4 linked regions of the Homo sapiens genome follow. The protein of the gene in region 4 interacts with the protein of the main gene of each other region in a biochemical or structural test. Each region holds a gene or a part of one and is shown on either strand. Other genes may lie near its edges. The genes, in order: NOTCH1, GLI1, PRKCB and NUMB.

Region 1 (5,475 bases), on a different chromosome or scaffold from region 4:
GTGTCTCCTCCTGGGGGATGAGGGCGGGGGCCGGTGAGGGGGGCCAGGCCAGGCGTGGGGACCCTCCCCAAGGTTCCATCACCAGAGGAAGCAGCAGTACAACCTCCTCCGCGGGGTGGGGGCAGGCAGGCTGCTCCTCAGGACCCCACCCCAGCGTCCTGCAACCACCTAGCCTGACTCTTGTTAAATGTTAAGGCTTTGATACATCTTCTGAAACCCACCCAGAGAGGGGATCTGTGCAGTCCTCTACCCTAGATCAGCGGGGCTCCACCTCTATGGGGGGGTCACAGACCCCACTGAAAATCTAACCAACTGCAGGCCCTCTTCCCTGCCCCCAATAAGGCACAAAAGGAAATTCCTGGAGCGGTTCAGAGGCACCGGCGAGGGCACCAGGGAGGGAGCTCGTCATCTGGACGGCCATCAAGCCACCCTGGTGGCCACCAAGCTCCTTCCTGGGGTCTCCTCTGTGCGGTGGACACGTCACAGGTCTGGGTGAGGCTGCTGTGTGGGAGTGGGAAGGGGCTTCCCAGGCCTTGATGCCCTCTGGGGCCCAGTCTCTGTGGGGCCATGCTGCCACGGACTGGGGAGCGCCTGGGCCAACATGCCCCGGTGCCCAGGCCCGCTGTGTGCCCTCACCCAGGAGGGAGAGACGCCTGAGCCTGACATGCCAAGGGGGCAGCAGGAGTTGGGGGCGGGGGTGGGGGTTCTGGCGGCAGGGAGGTGGGGGTGTCTGCACCTGTGCCCTGAGCACCCAGGGGAAACCAACAGCAGCTGCAGGGCCAGGAGCTGCAGGGCCAGGATGAGGGCTGGGGGTGGCTCCCCTTGGATATAGTCCTGAGACTTCTTCCTCTGAGCCTTGAGGTCCTTGGCCTTGGTGAACACACCAAGAGGCCCCGCCCCGCAGGGAGCTGCCGCCACGCGTGTTCTGGCTCAATCTGCACCACCTGCGTCACCACATTCCCATCCCCACCCCCGCCTGGTGACAGCTGGGGACAGAAGGTGAGGTCCAGGTGACGGTGACACAGCAGTGGCAGCAGCAGCGTTCCCCACGCCAGGCTGTGTGCCCCGCCATGACTGCCGCCCAGGAGGGTAGGGCTGGGTCTGAGGGGCGAGCCGCCGTGTCCTGACAGCTGGACCTGCACTTGGAAGGGCTCCATAAACGGGGGCTGAAGGAAGGCAGGAGCACTAACGAGGTGCCCGCATCATGCGGGTGGGGCCCACATGCGGGCCCAGCGACCCTCGAGACCCTGTGGGTCAGGCCCTTGTGTCCCTGCGCCCCGTGGGTTTGGCCCTCACTTCTCTGTGGATTCAGCCCTCACGTCTCCCCTGGCATCCCAGCCTCGCGCTCACCCTGTTGTTCTGCATATCTTTGTTAGCCCCGTTCTTCAGGAGCACAACTGCGGCATCCACATTGTTCACGGCGGCGGCCCAGTGCAGGGCGGACTTGCCTGCGTGAAAGAAGCAGATGGGGTAGGTTGGAGACCAGCTGGAGGCAACCCAGTCCCACCCGTCCCTGTGGCGGTCCCGCCCCACGACAGAGCAGCCGTGCCCCCGTGGGCTCACCCAGGTCATCTACGGCGTTGACGTCGGCGTGTGAGTTGATGAGGTCCTCCAGCATGCCCTCCACGGCCAGGCGGGCAGCCAGGATCAGTGGCGTCGTGCCATCATGCATGCGGGCATCCAGGTCTGTGGCTCGGTTCCGGATCAGGATCTGGGCAACAGGGAGAGGCTCAGGCGGGTGCTGGGCAGACGTACACCGATGCCTCCTGCCCAGAACGAACGCCTGGACGGGAAGCCCCACTGTCTTCCGGACACAGACGAGACCCTCCTGAGATCGGCACGGCCGGGCAAGACGAAACGCCATGGGGCTGCCCCTGAGGAGGGGCCCGGATGGGGGCAGGGGCTGTGCTGCCCACAGACAGGCCCCTTGGTGACAGTGGGATCCATCGTGACCACGTGTGGCCTCATTTAATCCTCACTGTGGTCCTAGCTGCCATGACCACCTACAAAACAGAGAGGTCAAGTCCCTGCCCCCAACGGCGGTTACAGCTGGCACTCAGGAAGCCGGGCTCACGGCCCTACAGCCGTCTCAGAACCGCCGAGCTAGTGTCCGGCTCTGCCCAGAGAGGGGGTGGGCAGCCCTTGTAATGCAGCCGGGTCTTGGCATCTGGCAGGAGGAATGGCCCCTGCTCACTGGCGGGTGCAAAAGGCAACTTGGCCTGATTCCTGCAAAGCACCTGGGAACTTCCACATCTGTGCAAAGAAGGCAGCTGAGAGAGGCACACACCAAACCCGCACGGGGCTCCCTTCCACGCTCTTTCTGCTCACCTACATTTATTTCTGCGAGATGACAATGTGTCACCTGAGCTAAGAAATCAGGAAATGAGAAGCTCTGTGGTAACTCCCCGGGCTGTGCCCATCTGAACCTGCTTGCTCCAGGGCCGCCTGGAGCCTGGGGACTCGCAGCAGGGGTGACTGCAAAGGCAGCCCCTGCCAGGGACACTCCCTGGAGACCCAGGCATCCAAATCCCTAAATCCATTCTTGCCACGAGCTCACCGGCAAGCTGAGCCCTAGGTCTGCAGGCACCGAGCGGCAGCCTCTAAACCCTGCTTCTCACTGCCACAGGCTACGCCGGCAGCCAAGGTTGAGGGAGGGGCGGGGCTGCGAGGGGCTGCAGCAGTGGAACCTGGACCTTGAGCAAGGCCCACAACCCTGATGGAGCCTGTTTTGCTGGGGGTGGGGAGGTGCTGCCTCACTCAGCAGATCCCCCAGGCCTCCTGCCAGACCCGCCTCTGCCTGACTTCCCTGGAGAACACAGATGGGCCCGACGCCCTCCCCCTCGCACCTCGCTGACTGCGAAGGTCCCAGGTGGAGGCACCAGTTGTCCCGGACTCAGCTGTGCTCGGGGTCAGGCTCCCAGGGCCACGTAAGCCTGGCCACTGCCCCAGACCACCAGGCGGCCCTGAGGAGGGCAGGTGGGCACACAGGCAGCCACTGCCTACCTGGAAGACACCTTGTGCGTCGGCAGACACAGCCGCATGCAGCGGGGTGCGGCCCATGTTGTCCTGGATGTTGGCATCTGCGCTGGCCTCCAGCAGGCGCTTGGCGGCATCAGAGCGTGAGTAGCGGGCGGCCAGGTGCAAGGCGGTCTCGCCCGTGCGGTCTGTCTGGTTGTGCAGGCTGGCGCCCTGGTAGATGAAGTCGGAGATGACGGCCGGCGCGTCCTCCTCTTCCTCGCTGTTGCCCGTCTCCAGGCCGCCCCCGCTGCAGGAGGCGATCATGAGCGGGGTGAAGCCATCTGCAGAGGCAGAGACGGGTGCTCAGTCTGGAGGGCCGGTCCCCAGCTGCAGCCCAGGGGGAGGGGGGCAGCAGCCCCAAGCTCAAGGGGCCACGGTGTGGATGCACCACCCAGCACTTGGTGGCCCCGTGCACACAGCCACCAAGGGGCAGCTGAAGTCCGCCTGGGCTGCTCAGTGGACAGAGCCGAATCCAGCTTAAACTCCTGGCGGGCAACTGCTTCCTGACCTGCCCAAGACCTGGCACCCAAAATCCACCCAGGAAAAAGAGGACCCCAGAAGCATGCAGTTAGAAAATTAATGCTTCAGCAGGATGCGGAGGCTCACGCTGTCATCCTAGCACTGGGGGAGGCCGAGGTGGGCGGATCACCTGAGGTCAGGAGTTCGAGACCAGCCTGGCCAACATGGTGAAACCCCATCGCTGCTAAAAATACAAAAATTAGCCAGGTGTGGTGGCAGGCGCCTGTAGTCCCAGCTACTGGGGAGGCTGAGGCAGGAGAATTGCTTGAACCCGAGAGGTGGAGGTTGCAGGGAGCCGAGATCGTGCCACTGCACTCCAGCCTGGGTGACGGAGCGAGACTCCATCTCAAAAACAAAAAAAAAAGAAAAAAAAAAAGAAAAAGAAAATCAACGCTTTCCATGTCTCAAGAAGGTTTCAGAAAAGAGTAATTTACAGGGACAGAGTGGCCCTGCGGTATCACCCCAGGAAGGGGTTGGTGGAAGAACAGGAGGACTCCAGGACCCCCCCACGTCTACTCTGAATGGGAAACACCCCAAGGATGAAAGCTCTCACCCCCAATTCTAAGTTTCCAGAGTATCAACTGTACCCCAGCCTCGGGGCTTAGGGGAGAGAGGCAGGTGGGCCACGGGGCTAGGGAAGCCCTGGCTGCTGGCACCCTTACCAGGCCCGCGGACATTGACGTCCATGCAGTCGGCGTCAACCTCACCCTGGGGCGGTGTGGGGGCCATGGCAGACATGCGCAGGTCAGCGGCATCCAGGTGCTGCTGAGTCCACTGCCGGTGGTCTGTCTGGTCGTCCAGGTCAGGCAGAACCACGGGCTCCTCGAACTACATAGAGGGAGTGAGCAGAGCCTGTCAGGGCAGCCCGGCAGCAGGTGCCCGGGAGCCCAGGAGCCCGGGAGCCTCGCGACTCACCCGGAACTTCTTGGTCTCCAGGTCCTCGTCCCCCCACTCATTCTGGTTGTCGTCCATGAGGGCACCGTCTGAAGCGTTCTTCAGGGGCCTGGGGGGTGAGGGGTCGAGAAGTGAGGCTGAGCGAGCTCCCTAGGAAGCCCCCAGAGACCCCTGGCCCGGGCCTGGCGTGGGAGGTGGGCCCTGGGTCGGGAGGGGCAGACTCCCGGTGAGGATGCTCGGCCAGGTCCCACCTCCCACCGGGGACCCAGAAGCAGGGGCGGCGTCCGCTCACTTGAGGCCCACGGAGTCCTCGCCGAGGGGCTCCCGCCGCTTCTTCTTGCTGGCCTCAGACACTTTGAAGCCCTCAGGGAACCAGAGCTGGCCATGCTGCCGCCGGCGCTTGCGGGACAGCAGCACCCCGCAGCCCACGAAGAACAGAAGCACAAAGGCGGCCGCCGCCACGTACATGAAGTGCAGCTGCGCCGGCGGGGGCGGCTCCACGGTCTCACCTGCGGGCACGGGGGCCAGGGGCAGGTGCCCGGACATCAGGCAGCGGCTACGCAGCAGGCTGGTGGCCGGGGGGCGGCGGACTGGCTCCGCGTCCGGGCGCCTCCTCACCCACTCTCCTCCATCCCGCCCTCCAAAATAAGGTCATTTTCTACGCGATTAATCAGAATTGCAAACTATCGCTAAATTCTCTCCTGCACCAGCCGACTCTATCTGGAGACGGCTTTTACTTTTTTCTCCTTTAAGGAAGGAGGATTAGTCAACTTCAAATCGCTGCACTCGCACTGAGCTGTTAAGACAAAGGATTTAGAGGGATTTTCAAGATACAAACTTCAACACTTCACATGACACCGATCAATTCTTCTCTCTCTCTCTTTTTTTTTCTTTAAAAAAAGCCGTAATGATTTTGAAATAATACCCAACAAAGAAAATTCAGGAGGAAAGGGTGGGGAGAGAAGCAGGCACCCACTTTCCCGTGGCTGGACTCGTTCCCAGGTGGCTCCACCGGCAGCTGTGACCGCCGCAGGTGGGGGCGGA
Region 2 (4,959 bases), on a different chromosome or scaffold from region 4:
CCAGGCTGGAGTGCAGTGGCATGATCTCGGCTCACTGCAACCTCCGCCTCCCAGGTTCACGCCATTCTGCCTCAGCCTCCTGAGTAGCTGGGACTACAGGCGCCTGCCACCACGCCGGGCTAATTTTTTTGTATTTTTAGTAGACATGGGGTTTCACTGTGTTAACCAGGGTGGTCTTGATCTCCTGACCTCGTGATCTGCCCACCTCGGCCTCCCAAAGTGCTGGGATTACAGGCGTGAGCCACTGCACCCGGCAACTCTTTCTTAAATAGCACTTAGTATATGTTCCAAGCCTTTTACATGTATAATTTCATGTACTCCTCACAGCAACTTCATGATAAAGGGACTCACTGTTCCCATTTTCAGTTGAAGAAACTCAGGCATAGAGAAATAGCCCAAGGTCATAGAACTAAGAGCAAGAATTTGAGTCCAGCCAGTCCGTGCTCCAGCCTAGGTTCTTCTCATCAAACGTCTCACATTCAGTTTGCTCCCCCATCTCTTACCTGCTTAGCCCTTTCTACACTTACAAGCTTCCTTGGAACCCCAGCAGTCACTGGGACACAGGCTTCAGCCACTCATCAAGTTGAAGGAGCTGTGGGGAAGGGTGTTGCCCTCAGACCTCATCTTCTCCACAGAAGCCACAGCCAAGCCCTGGGGCCCAGTCATCCTGCAGCAGTGACCACTCCCCGGCAGGGAGTGCAGCCAATACAGACAGTGGTGTGGAAATGACTGGCAATGCAGGGGGCAGCACTGAAGACCTCTCCAGCTTGGACGAGGGACCTTGCATTGCTGGCACTGGTCTGTCCACTCTTCGCCGCCTTGAGAACCTCAGGCTGGACCAGCTACATCAACTCCGGCCAATAGGGACCCGGGGTCTCAAACTGCCCAGCTTGTCCCACACCGGTGAGACCTGGGTGTGGGAGGTGTGGCTGGGGTGAGATCTGGACCTGCCCTGAGGTTGAGAGGAGGAAGTCACCCTTGAGGGCTGTCACACAGCACTTTTGTATAATTAGAAAATGGTGTCCTTCCTCAAGACACTTTCCATTTATCAGAAAATAGTTGTGATGTACAAACATGCAAAGGCTAGCCAGGCATGGTGGTGGGCACCTGTAATCCCAGCTACTCAGGAAGCTGAAGCAGGAGAATTGCTTGAACCTGGGAGGCAGAGGTTGCAGTGAGCTGAGATTGCGCCATTGCACTCCAACTTGAGCAACAAGAGCGAAACTCTGTTTCAAACAAAACAAAACAAAACAAACAAACAAACAAGTATGCAAAGGCTATGATGCGAATGCTGTTCCCTAGGATTGTGCAGCACACAACCTGCACAACTGTTCATAGCAACCCTGAATCCTTGGTAACCCAGAAACAGAATAGGCATGGGAGAAGTAGGAGACAGAACAGACTGGTTAGGGATAACGAGCTTACCCCTGAGAATCCAGGGCAAGGCTGTTGCATGGAGGAGGCAGGGTGAAATTTAGGAAGCTCCTTGACCATCCTACCTTTTCTCCCCATCACTTGCAGGTACCACTGTGTCCCGCCGCGTGGGCCCCCCAGTCTCTCTTGAACGCCGCAGCAGCAGCTCCAGCAGCATCAGCTCTGCCTATACTGTCAGCCGCCGCTCCTCCCTGGCCTCTCCTTTCCCCCCTGGCTCCCCACCAGAGAATGGAGCATCCTCCCTGCCTGGCCTTATGCCTGCCCAGCACTACCTGCTTCGGGCAAGATATGCTTCAGCCAGAGGGGGTGGTACTTCGCCCACTGCAGCATCCAGCCTGGATCGGATAGGTGGTCTTCCCATGCCTCCTTGGAGAAGCCGAGCCGAGTATCCAGGATACAACCCCAATGCAGGGGTCACCCGGAGGGCCAGTGACCCAGCCCAGGCTGCTGACCGTCCTGCTCCAGCTAGAGTCCAGAGGTTCAAGAGCCTGGGCTGTGTCCATACCCCACCCACTGTGGCAGGGGGAGGACAGAACTTTGATCCTTACCTCCCAACCTCTGTCTACTCACCACAGCCCCCCAGCATCACTGAGAATGCTGCCATGGATGCTAGAGGGCTACAGGAAGAGCCAGAAGTTGGGACCTCCATGGTGGGCAGTGGTCTGAACCCCTATATGGACTTCCCACCTACTGATACTCTGGGATATGGGGGACCTGAAGGGGCAGCAGCTGAGCCTTATGGAGCGAGGGGTCCAGGCTCTCTGCCTCTTGGGCCTGGTCCACCCACCAACTATGGCCCCAACCCCTGTCCCCAGCAGGCCTCATATCCTGACCCCACCCAAGAAACATGGGGTGAGTTCCCTTCCCACTCTGGGCTGTACCCAGGCCCCAAGGCTCTAGGTGGAACCTACAGCCAGTGTCCTCGACTTGAACATTATGGACAAGTGCAAGTCAAGCCAGAACAGGGGTGCCCAGTGGGGTCTGACTCCACAGGACTGGCACCCTGCCTCAATGCCCACCCCAGTGAGGGGCCCCCACATCCACAGCCTCTCTTTTCCCATTACCCCCAGCCCTCTCCTCCCCAATATCTCCAGTCAGGCCCCTATACCCAGCCACCCCCTGATTATCTTCCTTCAGAACCCAGGCCTTGCCTGGACTTTGATTCCCCCACCCATTCCACAGGGCAGCTCAAGGCTCAGCTTGTGTGTAATTATGTTCAATCTCAACAGGAGCTACTGTGGGAGGGTGGGGGCAGGGAAGATGCCCCCGCCCAGGAACCTTCCTACCAGAGTCCCAAGTTTCTGGGGGGTTCCCAGGTTAGCCCAAGCCGTGCTAAAGCTCCAGTGAACACATATGGACCTGGCTTTGGACCCAACTTGCCCAATCACAAGTCAGGTTCCTATCCCACCCCTTCACCATGCCATGAAAATTTTGTAGTGGGGGCAAATAGGGCTTCACATAGGGCAGCAGCACCACCTCGACTTCTGCCCCCATTGCCCACTTGCTATGGGCCTCTCAAAGTGGGAGGCACAAACCCCAGCTGTGGTCATCCTGAGGTGGGCAGGCTAGGAGGGGGTCCTGCCTTGTACCCTCCTCCCGAAGGACAGGTATGTAACCCCCTGGACTCTCTTGATCTTGACAACACTCAGCTGGACTTTGTGGCTATTCTGGATGAGCCCCAGGGGCTGAGTCCTCCTCCTTCCCATGATCAGCGGGGCAGCTCTGGACATACCCCACCTCCCTCTGGGCCCCCCAACATGGCTGTGGGCAACATGAGTGTCTTACTGAGATCCCTACCTGGGGAAACAGAATTCCTCAACTCTAGTGCCTAAAGAGTAGGGAATCTCATCCATCACAGATCGCATTTCCTAAGGGGTTTCTATCCTTCCAGAAAAATTGGGGGAGCTGCAGTCCCATGCACAAGATGCCCCAGGGATGGGAGGTATGGGCTGGGGGCTATGTATAGTCTGTATACGTTTTGAGGAGAAATTTGATAATGACACTGTTTCCTGATAATAAAGGAACTGCATCAGAAAAAATACCATGCCACTTTATGTATTATTATGTTGGGGAGGAATGATAACAGGGAACAAGAAGAGAAGCAGGGGTTAATCCACTCACTTTCCTCTTTAGAGAAGCTCCCTCACCCATCCCAACACCTCAAGTCACACTCATGAAGATAGAGACAGTCATTTGGGAGATTTAAAGGGATATCCTCAAAACAGAACACCAGCCTCTCACCACCAGAGATGACCGGAAATATGTTTTCTCTTCTTCCTTCCCTGCATCAGGGGAAGAGGCTGGTGAAGTTGGTGAGCATCAGCTGGACCAGCTGCCCTGGGTAGAGAGCATGGGCTGCTGGGTCAGATGTCTCCTGCTCTGGCCGAAACAGGGTTGGTCCAAACACAATTCCCAGGTTGTGGGGTGTCATGCGATTCTTATCTGAGTGTGCTATCACCCTGTAAGCAAAGGCCAAGGAAGGGGATATATGGCAGCAGCTTGCCACTTCATAGCAATCTAACTAACCCTTCAAAGTTCTGAGCAGGGAAGAGTTCACTCTGGGATTCCTCCACATGGTAACAAAAAAACCAAGGAGATACAAGGAGAATGGAGATGGACCAGTGGAGAAACCTTCAGGATACAACCTGAAGATATAACTGCCTCTTCCGACTTCAGGGGCTGCCCCAAGAGTTCTGCCTGCTCACAGTTTGGGAGTCTTTAATTCAAGTGGCCATCCTCTCTCAGAAGTCACTGCCCAGGCCCAGTTCAACCAAAGAAGCCATCAGCAATGTCCCAATGGGAGACAAAGAGGCAGAGGGAAGGGAGAAGTAAGATTTCCCTTATTCCTTTCACAGCATCTTGGTTCCATTTCCCCACTTGATGCTGACCTTTAGGTTTTGACCTAAAGTCTTTGACGGGCACGGTGTAATCCCAGCACTTTGGGAGGCTGAGGTGGGTAAATCACCTGAGGTCAGGAGTTCGAGACCAGCCTGGCCAACATGGTGAAACCCCGTCTCTACTAAAAATACAAAAATTAGCCAGGCGTGGTGGCGGGCACCTGTAATCCCAGTTACTCAGGAGGCTGAGGCAGGAGAATTACTTGAACCCGGGAGGCAGAGGTTGCAGTGAGCTGAAATTGCGCCACTGCACTCCAGTCTGGGTGACAGAGCGAGACTCTGTCTCAAAAATAAATAAAATAAAAAAATAAAGGTTTTGACTCTGGTAATATGCTCCTGCACAGAGGTTGCCTGCTTCCTCACCTGCCCATTAAACTTAGGTGCTTCCCTACCTTCACTCCACCTGCACAGAGTCCCTGTGGCATTCCCCACTCCACCTTTCCCCAGCATGAACAAAGAGGTTCTGTCTTCCTGACCTGCATAAATGCTCCAGGAGGTACCGTAGAGTGTCATGGTTGGGCTTTGGCATTGAGCCTATTAATTCTTGTATCTGAGAGAGGCACTGCTCTGATTCGGAGAGTGCTAGAGAGAGTGATGGGAAAGGCATGGTAGTAAGGTTAGGGAAGGT
Region 3 (5,475 bases), on a different chromosome or scaffold from region 4:
AATGAAAGGAGCCTGAATTCTGCTAAGATGTAGACATGGATTATTATCAGCCTTTATCCCAGAGCTCACAACACTTCCAACTTCCTAAGTTACTCCTACAGATAACATCACTACTGTAGAACTTGAGATTGGCCTTTTGAGATGTCTTTTCAGGCTTTTGCCTTCCTGACAACCAGACTGCCCCACCTGGACCTGCCAACTAGTCCTGTGGCCCCACCCAGAAGTGGACTCAGTGCACGAGGACCATTTTTCACACCCCTATTACTGCATCCCCAACCAGTCAGCAGCACCCATTCCCTAGCCACCCTACTCCTTGCCAAACTATCTTTGAAAAGCCCTAGCTTCCAAATTTTCAGGGAGGCTGATTTGAGTCATAAAAAAACTCTGTTCTCCCATTTAGCTGGCTCTATGTGTGTAAAACTCTTTCCCTATTGCAATTCTCCCATCTTGATAAATCGGCTCTGTCTGGGCAGCAGGCACAAAGAAGCCACTGGGCAGTTACAGTCTCATCATGTAGTTTAGTAAATTGGCCCAGATGTAATAAAATAGGGAGTGGTGAGGACGGTGACAAATAGAAAATCCATGTCCTGTCTAAAGGGGGCATTAACTATTCAACTGTTCTCAATTGTTGCCTTCTAGCCCCAGATTTTTAAAATACTAGAACTAATTCCCTCCCTCCCTCCTTCTGTCCCTCCTTCCCTTCCTCCCTTCCTTCCTTCCTGCTTTCCGTCTTTCTTTCTTCTTTCTTTCTTCTTCCTTTCCCTTTCCCTTTTTCTTCCTTTCCTTCCTTCCTTCCTTCCTTCCTTCCTTCCTTCCTTCCTTCCTCCCTCCCTTCCTTCATTCCTTCTCTCTCTCTCTCTTTCTTTTTTATCACTCTGTCACCCAGGCTGGAGTGCAGTGGCTCAATCTCTGACCACCTTGCTCACTGCAACCTCTGCCTCCAGGGTTCAAGTGATCCTCCCATCTCAGCCTCCTGAGTAGCTGGAACTACAGGCACACACCACCATGCCCAGCTAATTTTTCATGTTTTTGATAGAGATGGGGTTTCACCATGTTGCCCAGACTGGTCTTAAACTCCTGAGCTCAAGTGATCTACCTGCCTCGGCCTCCCAGAGTGCTGGGATGACAGGTGTCAGACACGAGGCCTGGCCTCTTTCTTTTTTGTTTTTAGTACAAGGACCAAACAAAACATATCTGCAAGGCAGATCCAATCAACCAGACTTCACTTTGGGACTCTGTTTTAGTATTTCAATTTTTGGAGAAAAAGGAAAACATACTTGACCCCGCGTTTGATGGAGCAAGCTGTATGGTAGCTTTCAAGGCAAAATCTTACTTACCAGCCATCAACACTGGCTTTCTGAAGTTCAGAAATCCCAAAGGACAAAGATCCCATGAAGTCATTCCTGCTGGTCAAATCCCAATCCCAAATCTCTACTGACAGTCTTCTGTCTTTGTCCGATTCTTTCAGCTGACTGCATAGAGAAAAAGAAAAGACATCAGTGGAGGTTGTAGTAATTTCTCAAGCAGAATAAATGTACAAGAGGACAAGACCTGGAGGTAGAAAGTTTTAAAGATTACAAGCTGCTGAAAGAAACATATTCAGTTTCCATCCCAGGCTAGCTCTCCAGGGAGTGAGAGCTTTTTCTGTTTGACAGCCTGTGGCTTAAACAGGCAGAGGTCTTAGACTGGCTATGACAAGAACAGTTCTAACTACTTTTGTTATCTTATGTCTTAATAGGGTTCAGGATATTCAGGAATTCCTATTGCCTATAAGAAATACAGATATCAATTGCATAATTGGGTGTGTACATGTGTATATCTGCACACAGGTGGGTTGAGAATGAGGCTGAGGAAATGCATGGAGAAAAATCCTGGGGAAATTGTCTGTTCTGAGACATGTCCTTGACTGAGGCTGAGAAGGGGCCCAGCTTTGCCCTGAGAGAGGGAAGAGGAGACAGGACAAGGAACTGTGCTTCTAGCTGGTGGCTAAAAAAGTATGACCGCTAAAGTCAGACTGCCAGAAGCTGAATCCCACTCCACCCCATATTTGCTATGGGACTTTGGGCATACTCTTTAACCTCTATAAGCCCTATTGCTACATTGGGAATAAAATGAGCCGATGAAGTCGGATCGCTTAACCCAGTGTTTGTCACACATCATATATGCTCAGTGAATTGGCTGTTATAACCAACTCCTGATGCCTAGATGTACAAGAAAGAGACTCCCAGATTCTTGGAGCCCTGGCCAGGGAAGACCCTCAAGGGAGGCTGGTGGAGATGTCCCAGAAGGCTGCAGGCCAAGCATCATCCATAAACCCAACTCTAGAGAGGCTGTCACCACACCCTGTAGGTTATGTTCCCCTATTTGCTGAGCCCCATCATTTCTCCCACAACTTGCCTTCACTTAGCAACACATCACACCATTTCCTGTCCTACCCACTCCCCCACACCACAGGCATTCTCATCTCTATTAAAAAAATAGCTCTAATTTTTTTTCTTGGCTCACAATACAAAATTGCAGATGGAAAAGAAGGGAGGGAAAGATAGGAGTGAGGGATGGAGAAGACAGAAAAGGAGGGAGGTAGGGAAGGAAGGAAACAGGAGCTAAGGGAGGAGGAACTCCCTGATTTCAGGTGGCACATAACCCAACCTCCACCACCCATGCTCACTGCAGTCATTTCCACTTACAATCTAAATGTCTCATTCCACTCAGGGTTGAGGGAGCATTTGATGGTTTTGGTCTTCTGTTTGCTCTCACTTTTGGGATCGGGAATCAGTTTCAGTTTTACGTAGGGATCTGACAGGCCATTGGGGTCCATAGGTACAAGGTTTTTAGCATCTCTTACTGAAAAAGAAAAAGCAGTTTTTGCATTAATACTGTCCAACATGTTTAAGCACCAAGCAGTGACAGCTGCAGAACTTGTGGAAGGTTCTTTGGCATCACACTTGTTTAGTGAGAAATTTAATTTTATTAACATCCATAGCTGAAGCAGTGCACAAAATGAGATGGGCTGATAAGATGTCAACTCTGGTCTGTGTTGGTTAAAAATGGATTTCTGACTTTTACACTGCTCTTCCCATACCAAGATTAACTGTAAGTTTTCTAAGCTTATTTTCCACAAAGCCCACAGGAAAGGCTGGCTTCTTTCATTTAGCATAACGTTTTCAAAGTTCACCACATTATAGCATGTATCAGCACTTCATTTTTTTGCATGACTGAATAATATTCCATTGTATAGATATCCCACATTTTGTTTATCCATTCAGCAGTTGATGCATAGTTGGGTTGTTTCCACTTTTTGGCTGTTGTGAATACTGCTGCTATGAACATTTGTGTACCCCAACACAAAAGGTCACATATTGTATGATTCCATTTACATGAAACATCCCAAACAGGTAAATCCATAGAGACAGAAAGTAGACTACTATTAATAGTTGCCAGAGGCTGGAGGGAAAGGGAAATGGGGAGTGACTGCTTAATGAGTACAGGGTTTCTTTTAGAGGTGATGAAAATTTCTGAGAACTAGATAGAGATGATGGTTGTCCAACACTGTGAATATTCTATAAATGTCACTGAATTGTACGTTTAAAAACAGTTAATGGTTAATTTTATGTTACGTTAATTTTACCTCCATTCAAAAAGAAAAAGCTAAAGAAAGGAAGAATTACCCTCTAAACCAAGGTACACCTATTATCCATGTATCACCCATAACCAGCACCCAGACAGCCCATAGAGAGAAGGCTGGAACAATGTCAGCAGCATTAGAGCTCAGCTCCACCCTGACTCCAGAACACCCAGGTAAAGAGGCTATAAGGCTAACATGGTGAAACCCTGTCTCTACTAACAATACAAAAAAATTAGCCAGGCATGGTGGCAGGTGCCTGTGGTCCCACCTACTTGGGAGGCCCAGGCAGGAGAATGGCATGAACCCAGGAGGCAGAGCTTGCAGTGAGCCAAGATCATGCCACTGCACTCCAGCCTGGGCGACAGAGTGAGACTCCGTCAAAAAAAAAAGATGAACTTACAGGAGAAAAGGAGGCAGGGAATCAGCAGTGAAGATGCAACTGGCTATAGAAAGGATGAGGGAGACTAAATCATCAGCTTGGAGAAACAGGAAGTAGTTAATTAGGAATCAATTCAGAAACCAGTAATGCAGGTAGTCAATGGAAGCAGACTAGAAAATGAGAATTGCACAGCTCTTAAGGATACAATGTCAATCATCTCACTTACAGTAGAACAATCCACAGTAATACATTCAATCCAAATCGACTCTAACTATCTGCTAAAAGGTGAATACATAATGACTCCTATCAGGAATGCAAAGATGGTTCAATCTTAGGAAATCTATTTTCAATATATTCATCATATTTATAGATCAAAGAAGAAAACCATAAGATCATTGTAGTTATCTAGAAACAGCAGAGAATTTTAACAGGATAAAGGCTATCTGAAATAACAGCACCATGGTTCATGATAAATGCAATTCCATTAAAGTAAGGAATAAGACAAAGATATCCATTACCATAGCCATTATTTAATACTTTTTTTTCTCGTGTTCCATAAGTGCAGTAAGAAATAAAGAGTTACCCTCTAAACCAAGATGCACCTATTATCCATGTATCACCCATAACCTGCACCCAGACAGCCCATAGGGAAAAGGCTGGAAAAATATCCACAGCATAAATAAAACCAGAAATTTTGTAAACTCAAGATAACAAGAAAAACAGATTAGAAGAAAGAATATTGGAAAGTAGGAGAGAAAGCACCCCCTCATTTCCTGCAACCTTTGCTCACCCCCAATCATAGTTATCTCCTACCATGGTCACGCTCTGGAGCCTATTATCCCAGAAATTATACCACTTTCTCAATCTCAGTTTCAAGTACCCTACTATCTTACACCAATTTCTATTTTTCCAATTCATTAGTTCTATTATTCTACTGCAATAAATCTTCCCCTATTCGTCAGTCCATTCTCCACCAATCAGTCCCTCGAACCCAACACATTCTCTTGATCTCCCTATTCCCTCTTGCTTTTACTCCATTCATATCCAGATTCAATTTTATGGTGCATTTTAGCTACTCCTTTGGAAAGACCCTCAACTCCCTTGCCCCTCTTTCTTTTTATTTTACTTGTCTCACATGACCCCAGCCCTACTTAAATTCAAATACCTGTCCTTTCTTACTCTGTCCTTTTCCTACACTCAAACAGCTGACCATTGCTGGAAAATAAATAAGACTGACTTCCCTAAAATGATACAGCTAGTAAGGGGTTGAGACCGAATAAATGAGATGGGAGAAGCATTGAATCGGCTACCAGGATCAAGCTGTAACTTATTCTGTGCTGACATTTTTTCTGCACTCCAGCAACATGGCAGTGTCTTCTATTTTTCCACAGGCTGAATTCATCTCCCATCTCAGCTTGCAAGCTGCATCTCATTTTTACACCAAAAGCAAGATGTTGACCTTGATCAGTTA
Region 4 (5,475 bases):
AATGAACAATAGGCTGAGCACAGTGTCTGACACTTATAATCCCAGCACTTTGGGAGACTGAGGCAGGAGGATCACTAAAAAGGAAAAAAAAACAAACAAACCTGCGCAACATAGAATGACCTCATCTCTACAAAAAAAAAAAGAAAAGAAAAAATAAAGAACAACATTTGATGTAACATGTTAACATTTTTATAAATGACCAGTCATGTAAATGGACATTTGCAGTTCATTTTCTTGCCGATTTTTTTTTTTTTTTGAGATGGAGGCTGACTCTGTCACCCAGGCTGGAGTGCAGTGGCACAATCATGGCTCACTACAATGCCCCCTACCCTACCCCCAACCCTCGGGTTCAAGCGATTCTCCCACCTCAGCCTCCCTAGTAGCTGGGACAACAGGCATGCACCACCACACCCAGCTACTTTTTTGTATTTTTAGTAAAGACTGGGTTTTACCACGTTGGCCAGGCTGGTCTCGAACTCTGAGCTCAAGTGATTCGCCTGCCTCGGCCTCCCAAACTGCTGGGATTACAGGCATGAGCCACCGCATCTGGCCTCTAATATTTTCAATATAGTATTTGGGACTGCTTTCCTTGCAAGAGTTAAGGAAGACTTACTTGGCTACTACAGGAAATATCTTTCCTTCATACCACCAATGCTAGATAATTTTCAAAAACAAGAATGAATCAACTCTTTAAAATAATAATTCAAAATTATGTTCACTGATGAGATTTGAAGTCTATTACATCATGAATGTGATGGAAATTGTACACCTTTCATCAGAGACAATAAATAATATAGCTTTTAACAGCTTTATTTTTTTTAATTTATAATAGAGATAGGGTCTTGCTACGTTGCCCAGGCTTTTATCAAAACCCTAGGCTCCAGCAATTCTCCCTCCTTGGCTCCCAAAGTGCTGGGATTAAAGGCATGAGCCACCACACCAGGCCAGATTTTAACAGCTTTCTACAAATACAGATTTTTCTTTCATTTGACCAAATCCTTATCTAAGGAAGATACAGGGCTTAAATTCTGAAATAAAAACTATTTCTACTTGAATTGCGAAGATAAATATATTAACTCCAGGGAAAAATAAGCTGGTTCTAACTGGCATTTAGAACTAATTTAAAATCATTAACAATATCAGTAAATAAAATAATTCAATAAAAGCAATGATTTTAATAACAAAATCAGTAAATAATATAATGCTCAATTGTTTTTTTCTAGTAGTAGGATTAATGGTTTCCACTGTTGTCAAAAACTCACATGTATTTGGAAGAGGACCAGGTACAGTCACATCTTGGTATCTGAGGGGGACTCGATCCAGGACCCCATGGATACCAAAATCTGCAGATATCCCAGTTCCTTATGTATAATGGCATAGTACAGTCGGTCCTCTGTATCCATGGGTCCCACACAGGAGGATTCAACCAATCTTGCATCAAATATATTCGGAAAAAAAAATGGATGGTTGTAATGAACATGTACCTACTTTTCTTTCTTGTCATTATACCCTAAACAATACAGTATAACTATGTACATAACATTTATATCATATTAGGTTGGTGTAAAAGTAATTGTGTTTTTGCTATTACTTTTAATGGCAAAAGCTGTAATTACTTTTGCACCAACCTAATATTAAGTATTATAATTAATCTAGAGAAATAATTCAAAGTATACGGGAGAATGTGTGCAGGTTATATGTAAATACTACACCATCTTATATAAGTGACCTGTGCATCTATGGATTTTGGTATATTGGGGTCCTGGAATCAATCCCCCACTGATACCTGTATTTGCATATAACCTGCACACATTCTCCCATATATGTTATATAATCTCTAGATTACTTATTAATATAATACCTAATACAATGTAAAAGCTATGTAAATACTTATACTGTATTTATTCGTATTATTTGTATTGTTTTATTTTTTATTGGGTTTTCTTTCCAAATATTTTCTATCAACTGCTGGTTGAATCCAAGGATGCAGAATACACAGATAAGGGCTGACTATAATATGATAGATAAACAGCCTGTGACCACACAACAAAATATTAGCTTCATTTACCCCATGTTTCAGTCTAATACACCAAAATAAACCAACCACAAAAACAAACTGAAGTAGTAAATGTTTAAAATATATGTAATGTTTTGGTGTTTGTTTTTTGATACAGAGTCACACTCTGTCGCCCAGGCTGGAGTGCAGTGGCTCGGCTCACTGCAACCTCTGCCTCCCAAGTTCAAGCAATTCTCCTGCCTCAGCCTCCTGAGTAGCTGGGATTACAGGCATGCACCACTACTCCCAGCTAATTTTTGTATTTTTAGTAGACACGGGCTTTCGCCATGTTGGCCAGGCTGGTCTCGAACTCCTGACCTCAGGTGATCCGCCCACTTTGGCCTCCCAAAGTGCTGGGATTACAGATGTGAGCCACCGCGCCCAGCCTTAAAATACCTGTAATGTTTTAAAGTCGACTCTGGTTTTCCTAGCTGCCACAATGCTTACAATAACAGTATCTGGAATATTAGCCCATCCTAAAAGAGAAGTCTATAATAGATCTAATGTGATAATTATTAATAATTAACAATTACAATTTGTTAAGTGCCCACTATGGGCAAAATGCTATACACTACACAAAATGCTTTTCATTTAATTCTCACCATCACCCTGATGTGGAGGATAGCATAAGCTCCATTTTATGGATGACGAAACTGAATCTAAAAGAAGTTTAATAAACTGCTCAATTAGTAAATTAACGATAAAGTCAAGATTCAAAATCATGGTCACACAATTATAATGAATTTTGTCCATTCTGTCATGCTGCCTCTGGACATAAATGATGCTCTTTCAATTTCATAACATGGCAGTCACAAATATATTTCTGTCATCAGCAGGCTATTCTATGGTTCTGTGAGATACTAGTTTGGAGGAAAAAAAAGTTTTATCTTGATTAAAGAATACTGGGAGCTAGGCTGGGCGCAGTGGCTCACGCCTGTAATCCCAACACTTTGGGAGGCCAAGGCAGGTGGATTACTTGAGGTCAGGAGTTTGAGATCAGCCTGGCCAATATGGCGGAACCCTGTTTCTACTAAAAATACAAAAATTAGCCGGGCGTGGTGGCACACGCCTGTAATCCCAGCTACTCGGAAGGCAGGATAATCGCTTGAACCTGATAGGCGGAGGTTGCAGTGAGCCGAGATCGTGCCACAGCACTCCAGCCTGGAAGACAGAGCGAGACCCCATCTTAAAAAAAAAAACAAAACAGAATACTGGGAGTTAAAACTTCTTATAACAAAGTCGCTTATATTAAAAGAAATTAAGTAAATAAACCAAACGCAGTGACTCACGCCTGTAATCCCAGCACTTTGGGAGGCCGAGGCAGGAGGATCACTTGAGGCCAGGAGTTCAAGACTAGCCTGAGCAACACGGTGAAATCCCGTCTCTACTAAAAATACAAAAAAGTTAGCTGGGCATGCTAGTTGGCACCTGTAATCCCAGCTACTTGAGAGGCTGAGGCAGGAGAATTGCTTGAACCCAGGAGGCGGAGGTTGCAGTAAGCCAAGATTGCACCATTGCACTCTATCCTGGGCGACAGAGCAGGACTCTGTCTCAAAAAAAAAAAAAAAAAAAAACAAAAAACAAATCTACACTTCGGGAGGCTGAGGCAGGCAGATCACGAGGTCAGGAGTTCAATACCAGCCTGGCCAATATGGTGAAACCCCATCTCTACTAAAAATACAAAAAACTAGCCAGGTGTGGTGGCGTGTGCCTGTAGTCCCAGCTATTCGGGAGGCTAAAGCAGGAGAATTACTTGAACCCACAAGGCGGAGGTTGCAGTGAGCCAAGATTGAGCCACTGCACTCCAGCCTGGGCAACAGAGGAGACACCGTCTAAAAAAAAAAAAAAAAAACCTACAACAAAAATTAGCCAGGCATAGTGGCATGCCCCTGTAGTCCCAGCTACTCGGTAGCCTGACGCAGGACAATTGCTTGAACCTGGGAGGTGGAGATTTCAGTGAGCCGAGATTGTGCCACTGCACTCCAGCCTGGGCATCTTTAAATAAAATAAATTAAGTAAATAAACCTTCACAAATTATCTACATGATAAAATCAAAATGTACCTGAGATGTACATATGCACAAGTGACTAGACGAAAGTATCACTATTACTTTTCCAAAGTCAAAGGTAACCAAGGCCAATCTTAAATAAAGTTACAAATTTAGCTGATTTCTGTGTCCCTGGTTGCCCCAGCTTTGCCTTTATTCAGAGCTAAGCAGTATTCTACAGTTTTTCCCTCTTCTTCCCTAATTAAACTAGAAATGTTCCAAATTAACTATAATTCACCTTAATATAATCAAGTTACCATAATTAAGATTTTGCTGTCCTACTCAGGTAATTGAAGACTTTGATCTTGGTTAAAAGAACGTAAGATAGCCTGAGCACGGTAGCTCATGCCTGTAATCCCAACACTTTGGGAGGACTGCCTGAGTTTAGGAGTTTAACAAGACCCTGTCTCTACCCCCCAAAAAAAAAACTGGCCAGGCGTGGTGGCTCACGCCTGGAATCCCAGAACTTTGGGAGGCCAGGGTGGATGGATCACCTGAGACCAGGAGTTCAAGACCAGCCTGACCAAAATGGTGAAACCTCATCTCTACTAAAAATGCAAAAATTAGCGGGGTGTGGTAGTGCACACCTGTAATCCCAGCTACTAGGGAGGATGAGGCAGGAGAATCACCTGAACCCAGGAAGTGGAGGTTGCGGTGAGCTAAAATTGTGCCATTGTACTCCAGCCTGGGCAACGAGAACGAAACTCTGTCTCAAAAACAAAACAAAACAAAACAAAACTGGGCAGCCTGTAGTCCCAGCAACTGGAGAGGCTGAGGCAGAAGGATCACCTGAGCCCAGAATGTTGAGGCTGCAGTGAGCCGAGATCATGCCACTGCATACTCCCTCCACGTCAAAAGAGCAAGACACCGTCTCAAAAAAAAGGAACGTAACTTATCAGCAAACAAGTGGGGAGAAACAGGGTTTTCGTGGGTAGAGAGGGGGAAGTCACTGAACGTTAATTACTAATATAGCAACTCCTTGGTTAATGCATTTAAGATGACTGGGGGTCTCTTCCTAATCCCATACTCCACTGGAGAGGACAAGTGGGAAAGGTTGGTCTAGTTAAGGTTGCTGGGGACCTCCCAAGAGCTGCAGAAGCAGAGATAAGAAGAGCCTTCTTCTAAATCCACATGGTCCTTCCAAGGCTCTCATCCTCTAGGACTACCACTTCTCAGTCTACTTACTTGTCTTCTGACATGCTTTCTTGAGGGGAAGAAAACAAAGGAAGAGTAATAACAAGCAGCAGAAACTGCAGAGAATGAAAAATAAGTCCATAGGAGAATGTTGCAAATAGAATCATCCTCCTTTACATATGTCACTCCAGGAAAACTGCCAAGAACCACTCATTCCTCTAGATACACTTCCTGTAGA

The links.
Region 1: the proteins of NUMB (region 4) and NOTCH1 form a complex in vitro, tested with the Homo sapiens proteins (2 studies listed by BioGRID).
Region 2: the proteins of NUMB (region 4) and GLI1 form a complex in vitro, tested with the Homo sapiens proteins (one study listed by BioGRID).
Region 3: of the proteins of NUMB (region 4) and PRKCB, one has a biochemical effect on the other in vitro, tested with the Homo sapiens proteins (one study listed by BioGRID).

Annotation. Positions count from the first base shown.
Region 1 is NC_000009.12:136,497,549-136,503,023, forward strand, and holds part of NOTCH1 (neurogenic locus notch homolog protein 1 preproprotein), read right to left. Parts: intron 4,941-5,475; coding exon 4,724-4,940; intron 4,541-4,723; coding exon 4,453-4,540; intron 4,366-4,452; coding exon 4,200-4,365; intron 3,300-4,199; coding exon 3,004-3,299; intron 1,712-3,003; coding exon 1,564-1,711; intron 1,449-1,563; coding exon 1,351-1,448; intron 11-1,350; coding exon 1-10. UniProt on the Homo sapiens protein: Functions as a receptor for membrane-bound ligands Jagged-1 (JAG1), Jagged-2 (JAG2) and Delta-1 (DLL1) to regulate cell-fate determination.
Region 2 is NC_000012.12:57,468,796-57,473,754, forward strand, and holds the end of GLI1 (zinc finger protein GLI1), read left to right. Parts: intron 1-635; coding exon 636-903; intron 904-1,521; coding exon 1,522-3,266; 3' UTR 3,267-3,473; downstream 3,474-4,959. Other genes in the region: ARHGAP9 (rho GTPase-activating protein 9), read right to left, coding at 3,722-3,893, 4,808-4,913. UniProt on the Homo sapiens protein: Acts as a transcriptional activator. Binds to the DNA consensus sequence 5'-GACCACCCA-3'. Regulates the transcription of specific genes during normal development.
Region 3 is NC_000016.10:24,090,160-24,095,634, reverse strand, and holds part of PRKCB (protein kinase C beta type), read right to left. Parts: intron 2,845-5,475; coding exon 2,688-2,844; intron 1,473-2,687; coding exon 1,338-1,472; intron 1-1,337. UniProt on the Homo sapiens protein: Calcium-activated, phospholipid- and diacylglycerol (DAG)-dependent serine/threonine-protein kinase involved in various cellular processes such as regulation of the B-cell receptor (BCR) signalosome, oxidative stress-induced apoptosis, androgen receptor-dependent transcription regulation, insulin signaling and endothelial cells proliferation.
Region 4 is NC_000014.9:73,447,545-73,453,019, forward strand, and holds part of NUMB (protein numb homolog), read right to left. Parts: intron 1-5,475. UniProt on the Homo sapiens protein: Regulates clathrin-mediated receptor endocytosis. Plays a role in the process of neurogenesis.